Homo sapiens: one gene and its partner. The protein of the gene in region 1 purifies or fractionates together with the protein of each later gene. This does not show direct contact. Each region holds a gene or a part of one and is shown in the gene's direction. Other genes may lie near its edges. The genes, in order: KLHL28 and CAAP1.

Evidence for each region.
Region 2: the proteins of KLHL28 (region 1) and CAAP1 purify together in Homo sapiens (affinity purification with mass spectrometry; one large-scale study listed by BioGRID and IntAct). This does not show direct contact.

The regions. Positions count from the first base shown.
Region 1 is NC_000014.9:44,930,919-44,934,746, reverse strand, and holds part of KLHL28 (kelch-like protein 28), read left to right. Parts: intron 1-188; coding exon 189-632; intron 633-3,205; coding exon 3,206-3,414; intron 3,415-3,828.
Region 2 is NC_000009.12:26,844,114-26,847,941, reverse strand, and holds part of CAAP1 (caspase activity and apoptosis inhibitor 1), read left to right. Parts: intron 1-3,828. UniProt on the Homo sapiens protein: Anti-apoptotic protein that modulates a caspase-10 dependent mitochondrial caspase-3/9 feedback amplification loop.

The DNA.
Region 1 (3,828 bases):
CATTTCTTGCTACACATTCTTGCCAACAATTATTATCTGACTTTATATTTTTTGCCACTTTGGAAGGTGTGTCATGGTTTATTGTGCTTTTAATTTTTGTGTCCCTGATTACTAATAAGATTAAACATATCTGTCTTTATGGGCCACTTTGGTTTTTAAATTTTATATTTTTTCTGCTTATTCTTTAGTGTGGAGATGTACTTTCCTCAGAATGACTCTTGGATTGGTTTGGCACCCCTAAACATTCCTCGCTATGAATTTGGAATATGCGTTTTAGACCAAAAAGTATATGTTATAGGTGGTATTGCAACTAATGTGCGTCCTGGCGTCACTATCAGAAAACATGAAAATTCAGTGGAATGCTGGAATCCTGATACAAATACTTGGACTTCTCTAGAGAGAATGAATGAAAGCCGAAGTACTCTTGGAGTAGTAGTACTTGCAGGAGAACTTTATGCCTTAGGTGGTTATGATGGACAATCTTATTTACAATCTGTAGAGAAGTACATTCCCAAAATAAGAAAATGGCAACCTGTGGCACCAATGACGACAACAAGAAGTTGTTTTGCTGCAGCGGTATTGGATGGAATGATATATGCCATTGGTGGGTATGGTCCTGCCCACATGAACAGGTATTTAACTTAATAATTAAATTGCATATGTTTATGGATTTTTAAAAGTCTCATTAGCAATGATTTCTGAGTTTTAAACAATTTGTGTGTATGAATGAACTTCCGGCATTTGGGAAACTTAATCTGCTCCATGGATATAATTGTAATTGTTTTACATGGGAATTTAATACAAACCTAACAATCAAATCCCTCTCATTAAATTTTACATTCATTCACTATAAATGGACTAGATTTTAAAACTCAGAAACCTAAAAATAAGATGAAGTTAGACAACTTTAGATTTTGTGTGGTGTGTACATCTATGTGCACAGTATGTAAATTATCTTTTATTGTATTGCTTAATAGAATAAAGAAGTAGAAATTTAATTCCTGTGTGTCTATACAATATTATAGCACATCATAAACTTAAAACCTTATTTAAATATTCCTTTCTGAATTCTTTCCTGTAATCATACATGTATCATCAGGTATTTGACTTGTGCTGGAGTTTGAATTTGTGATATCTGTATTCTGTAGTTTTATCTGAATAAAGGAGAAATATATATGAGAAAATAAAAGTATGAAGTAACTAGTTATATGAGAAATTAATCGTAATTCTGAACCTTTATTGAAAATTGATGTTCCAAAGGTTTTATCTTTGGCCAGGTGTGGTGGTTCACGCCTGTAATCCTAATACTTTGGGAGGCTGACGTGGGAGGATTGCTTGAGCCCAGGAGGTTGAGGCTGCAGTGAGCCTTGAATGCACTACTACACTCCAGCCTGAGCAACAGAGTGAGACCCTGTCTCAAAAAAAAAAAAAAAGAAAGAAAGAAAAGAAAAGATTGTATCTTTAATAGTAATTAGAGTGGTTTGTGTTATTTTGATTGTGAGTATTTTAATGACAGGGCATACAGTCAGCCCTCCATATCCACGGGTTCTACATCCACAGATCCATCCAACTGTGGATCAAAAATATTTGAAAAAATTTACAATAATAAAAAACAAAATAATACAGTATAACAGCTATTTGCATAGTATTATAAGTAATCTAGAGATGATTTAAAGTATACAAGAGGATACGTGTAGCTTATATGCAAATATTATACTGTTTTATATAAGGAACTTGAGCATCTGCAAATTTTGGTATCCTTGGGATGGGGTGGATCCTGGAACCAATCCTCTACAAATACTGAGGTTTGTTGACTGAGAAAGTGATGGCACAACAGCATTTCATCTGTAAATTTTTACTTCTATTGAAGCCAAAGTATTCCTCCTTTTATTTATTTATATTTTTTGCCCTTAGTTGAAGGAAAAATATGGGACATAGACATGCATTTCTATTCTTTGAAAAGCTTCTGCCCAAAATTTGTAAGATAAAAGGTTAAGTATTTTAAATTTGATTATCTTGAAAGTCTTGCTGCAGTGCATCAACTCTTCTTCAATGATTTTGGTCTAATGGATTCTATCCTGGAGTTCTTTCAGAAACATTACCCAGTCTCTATTATGAACTCCAGAATGGTGTCACAGCCTGTTAAATGCTTATGGTTTTTTCAGGAAATAGGTTAGGGCCAGAACAAGCCCAACAATCTTACCTCTGTGCCTTTGTGCACCTTCAGAGGAAACCATAGTCTTAAACAGCTGCTAGAATTTTCTAGGGAAGCCTTTTTGAAAATTCTGATTTAATTTGGATTCCATAATGCAGCTTAGAAATGCCACACGTTCTCTGAAACACAGTCTTGACTCAAATTCCTGAGTACTCCTAAATCACCCTGAGATAATTATGATCAGCCAGTTTGTACTATGCAATCTACAGTGATTGCTTTGCAGTAAGCCACATGAATTCTCCTGTGACGAAAAAAAATAAAGGTTTTTCTCCCCACCCCCCACCCCTCTCTTCCTCTTCTTTTCCCCTTAACTGTATAGAAGATCCTAAAAACCTCTGTATTCAAGCCAGGCATGGGGGCATGTACCTTTAGTCCTAGCTACTCAGGAGGCTGAGGCAGAAAGATCACTTTAGCCCCGGAATTTGAGGCTGCAGTGAGCTCTGATCTTGTCACTGCACTCCAGCCTAGGTGACAGAGCGAGACCTGCCTCAAAAATAAATAAATAAAATTTAGGAACAAAAAAAAAAAGTCTGTATTCAGTTAGTGGTTTTCAAAGTCACGTGCATACTCATTTGACTTTATTCTTATATGAATCCCTTCAGGTTGCACTATCCTCATTTTTGCAGGTGAGAGGAAATGACTTATTCAGGATTACACAAATCCACAGCAGTAGGGTTAAGGTTCGTTCAGCCCTAGGTATACAGAATTAGTACTTGAACCCAGGTCTTCTGACTCCAAGTTCTATGCTCTTAATATACTTTGCCGCTTGCACAATATAATGGAATAGCATATGGAATTGCACCTTGTTTACAAGGTAAGCTTTTATCTTTGCAATCTTATCAGCAAAACCTAAGCATTTGTGGCAGACTACTCTTGTTTAATATCTCTCTATTATGTGAACTTTTAAAGCTGTAGTGGGTTTTAGTTTTGCTTTGACAGGAAGAATGACACAAAAGATCTGTAAATTAAATTTTTTTTAAATATTTGCAGTGTGGAGCGTTATGATCCAAGTAAGGACTCCTGGGAGATGGTTGCATCCATGGCAGATAAAAGGATTCACTTTGGCGTGGGTGTCATGCTAGGCTTTATTTTTGTGGTGGGTGGACATAATGGAGTCTCACATTTGTCCAGCATTGAAAGATACGATCCTCATCAAAATCAGTGGACTGTGTGTAGACCAATGAAAGAACCTAGAACAGGTAATAAGAATTTATTAATTTCTAAACATGTAAGGCAATGTTTTCTATAATGATGTGCTTGCAATAATAGTTCCTTGGAATATAGCAGTAGGAATATTACTTGTCCAGAAAAAAAAAAAAAAAGACTTGTATGTGGTAAACTTGAAAGACAATTAGCTAGACAAAAGTATATAGATTTCTTTATTGTGACTTTTATATGCCAATGTGCATATTATTGTTTCTCAAACTTGCTGAATACATTTTGGGAAATGCTTATACTAGAGTGTGTATTTATAGAAGCTCCTTTTGTCCATGTAACAAATGTCATCTTTTCATATGTTACATACATACAATCCTCGGATTGTTCTGTTTTGTTTTCTATTGTATATCAGTAATCTGTATGTTCACTTTCAAATGTTCTTTCTTCCCCAGGGG
Region 2 (3,828 bases), on another chromosome or scaffold:
AACATACGTATCTACTTCCCCTCCCTACCAAGAACCCACTGAAGTGACAGAAGAGGGATACTTAAAATAATAACATAAGTTGTAAATTAACTGATGACAAAACTAATAAACAGCAGTCCTTCCAAAGTAAACCACAAAATAGGGAATAAACAAAGGGAAAAAAAATCAACAGATTTAGCTAAATGTTAATATTTCTGAGAAAAAAAAACACCATAAATAAAATTATAAGACAGGAAAACTACAAAAAAAGGACAAATATAAGAATATATAGAATGTAGGTATTATTAAGAAACAAAAACATGGGCAAAGGGTAGAAACAAGTCAGATATTTCACAAAACTGGAAATACAGAAGGCAATACACACGTGGAAAAGAATGCTCAACCTAATTTCTAATCAGATAAATGTAAATTAAAAAAATAGTGCTTTTGGCCGGGCACGGTGGCTCACTCCTGTAATCCCAGCACTTTGGGAGGCCGAGACGGGCGGATCACGAGGTCAGGAGATCGAGACCATCCTGGCTAACACGGTGAAACCCCGTCTCTACCAAAAGTACAAAAAATTAGCTGGGCGTGGTGGCGGGCGCCTGTAGTCCCAGCTACTTGGGAGGCTGAGGCGGGAGAATGGCGTGAACCCGGGAGGTGGAGCTTGCAGTGAGCCGAGATCGCGCCACTGCACTCCAGCCTGGGTGACAGAGCAAGACTCCGTGTCAAAAAAAAAAAAAAAAAAAAAAAAAAAAAAAAAATATTGCTTTTTACTTACTAGTAAAAACGAGGATTTTTATCTGTCTATAAAAGAAGCTAGTACATTGCTAAGATGAAAAAAAATGACCAAGATATATTTTTAAGTCAAAAAAGTAAGCCAAAGAGTGATAATTATGTTTTTGTTAAAAATAAAATAAATAAGTTATTAACAGTGATTACTTCTGGGAAGGGGAGTAAAAGAAGAAGAAAAATTGGCCGGGCGCAGTGGCTCATGTCTGTAATCCCAGCACTTTGGGAGGCTGAGGCAGGCAGATCACCTGAGGTTGGGAGTTCGAGGCCAGCCTGACCAACATGGAGAAACCCCGTCTCTACTAAAAATACGAAATTAGCCAGGCATGGTGGCGCATGCCTGTAATCCCAGCTACTTGGGAGGCTGAGGCAGGAGAATTGCTTGAACCTGGGAGGTGGAGGTTGTGGTGAGCTGAAATCGCATCATTGCACTCCAGCCTGGGCAGCAAGAGTGCAACTCTGTCTCAAAAAAAAAAGAAGAAAAATTAATTTTCCCATTTTGCTCTGTGAACATGTATTTCTTCAACCTTTTACAAGAATGAACTGTAAAAAGCGTTAAAAGAAAAAATGAATTTACAGTATAACAAAAAAGATATAATGTAAAGATTAGAAATTTTATGGTTTTCACAAAATATAAGTAGACAGGATCAAATTGACAAAAGAAAGGAAAATCATAGCCAAAGACACCATAGATAAGTGTAAGTCTTTCTTTTTTCTTTTTTTTCTTCTTCTTTTTTTTTTTTTTTTTTTTTTTTGAGACAGAGTCTCGCTCTGTCACCCAGGCTGCAGTGCAGTGGCGCAATCTCGGCTCACTGCACCCTCTGCCTCCTGGGTTCAAGCAGTTCTCTGCCTCAGCCTCCATAGTAGCTGGGATTACAGGCACCCGCCACCACGCTCGGCTAATTTTTGTATTTTTAGTAGAGGTGGGGTTTCACCATCTTGGCCAGGCTAGTCTTGAACTCCTGACCTTGTGATCCACCTGCCTTGGCCTCTCAAAGTGCTGGGATTCCAGGCGTGAGCCACCGTGCCCAGCTGGTAAGTGTAACTCTTTCTTGAGTCTTGGAAAGAAGGAAGAATTGGCTGTGGAACAAACAACATGGCAATTAAAATTAAATTCATTTTGAATAATTAAGCCAACTGAACTCCTCCTCCTTTCCCTCCTTTTCACGGCCATATATCCAAGCACTCTACTCTGAGAGGCCTACCCCTCATCCATTTTATATCAAAGAAAAAGATCTGTTAGAGAAATAAACAACTGCTCAAAAAAACCAAACCAGCTACCAGAAAAACATAGCTAAAACAAATGAAGGACCAAGATAAACAAAAGAAGAAATAAAATTCAGGGATCAGAAGATAATCTTTTGGAGAAAAGGGAAGAAGAGAGTCCATTTAATATCCTTATGAGAGAGACTAATGTGGACACTGCAGCCATAAAACAGGGTGCAATGATAAAAAGCCAGAGACCAAGAATTGTTAGAATTTAAAATTACAGATATCGGCCAGGCGTGGTGGCTCATACCTGTAATCCTAGCACTTTGGGAGGCTGAGGTGGGTGGATCACGAGGTCAGGAGTTCCAGACCAGCCTGACCAACATGGTGAAACCCCGTCTCCATTAAAAATACAAAAATTAGCCGGGTGTGGTGGCACGTGCTTGTAATCCCAGCTACTCAGAAGGCTGACGCAGGAGAATCGCTTGAACCCTGGAGGTGGAGGTTGCAGTGAGCAGAGATTGTGCCACTGCATTCCAGCCTGGGTGACAGAAAAAGCAAATATTCAGCAGTGCTGGGAGATCATGTTAAGGAAATATCTCAAAATCCAGAAAAGAAAAATATTTTTAAATGTGCAATAAAAGTTAAGAGATGAAGATGAACAACTCATGAAGTCCAACATGAACTGAGTATAATTCAACAAATATTACTGAGCACCTGCTGTGTACAAGACACTGTTTTAAGCACCAAGGAAACAGCAGGGAACAACAACAAAAATCTCTGCCCTACATTTAAGTAGTAGAGAGAGAGTAAAAATACATAAAAATGTCAGGTGCAATGAAGAAAAATAAAACAGGATAAGAAGACAGTAGCAGGATGACACTTTCACAGAGAGTGATCACTATGATCTGATAAGGTACCATTTGAGCAGGGACTTGATAAAGTGACAGAATAAGTCAGAAAGCAAGAAAGTAGATAGTGAAAAGGGAAAATAAAGAAATAATCTGGATAAAACTGTTAGGAGGTGAAGAAGGCCGTCACCCTGAAAGGGCTTGCCACGTGTAGAACATCAAACCTAAGACACATCCTGTGAAATAGAATTCAAGAATAAAAAAAGTTCCTGAAAGTTGCCACAGAAAAAAACTAGATTACAGACAAAAGCATTACAATGGTTAGGTTCAGGGAATCAAGAGTATTCTCATCAGCCACTGTAGACAATACCCAATCTCAATGGATACTGACATGATCACAAAAAGAAAAGCAATTATATATTATGTGCTGGAAGTACACAACGTCACTTCTAAATATTCTTACCAGAAAATTGAACCTGAGTCTGATCAAGCCTCTGAATCAACTACCGTTTACCTCTTCTCCACCCCCTCATTATATTATTCAGCTCTTCATTCATTATCTCGCAACAACCCCTAGTCTGAAAAACAAGTCACATTTTTCAAAAATTTGTATTTTAAAATATTTTATACAGCCTGTAGTTTCTTATTCAGAATCAGTGACTATACACTTTAAATTTTAGGTAAAGCCTCGGAGACACTAAAGTTAATTTTTTGAGGCTGTGAACAACTTAGCACTTATTTTCTTTTTTTTTTGAGACGGAGTTTCACCCTTATTGCCCAGGCTGGAGTGCAATGGCACGATCTTGGCTCACCACAACCTCCGCCTCCCAGGTTCAAGTGATTCTCTTGCCTCAGCCTCCCGAGTAGCTGGGATTACAGGCATGTGCCCCTACGCCTGGCCAATTTTGTATTTTTAGTAGAGATGGGATTTCTCCATGTTGGTCAGGCTGGTCTCAAACTCCTGACCCCAGGTGATCTGCCCACCTCAGCCTCCCAA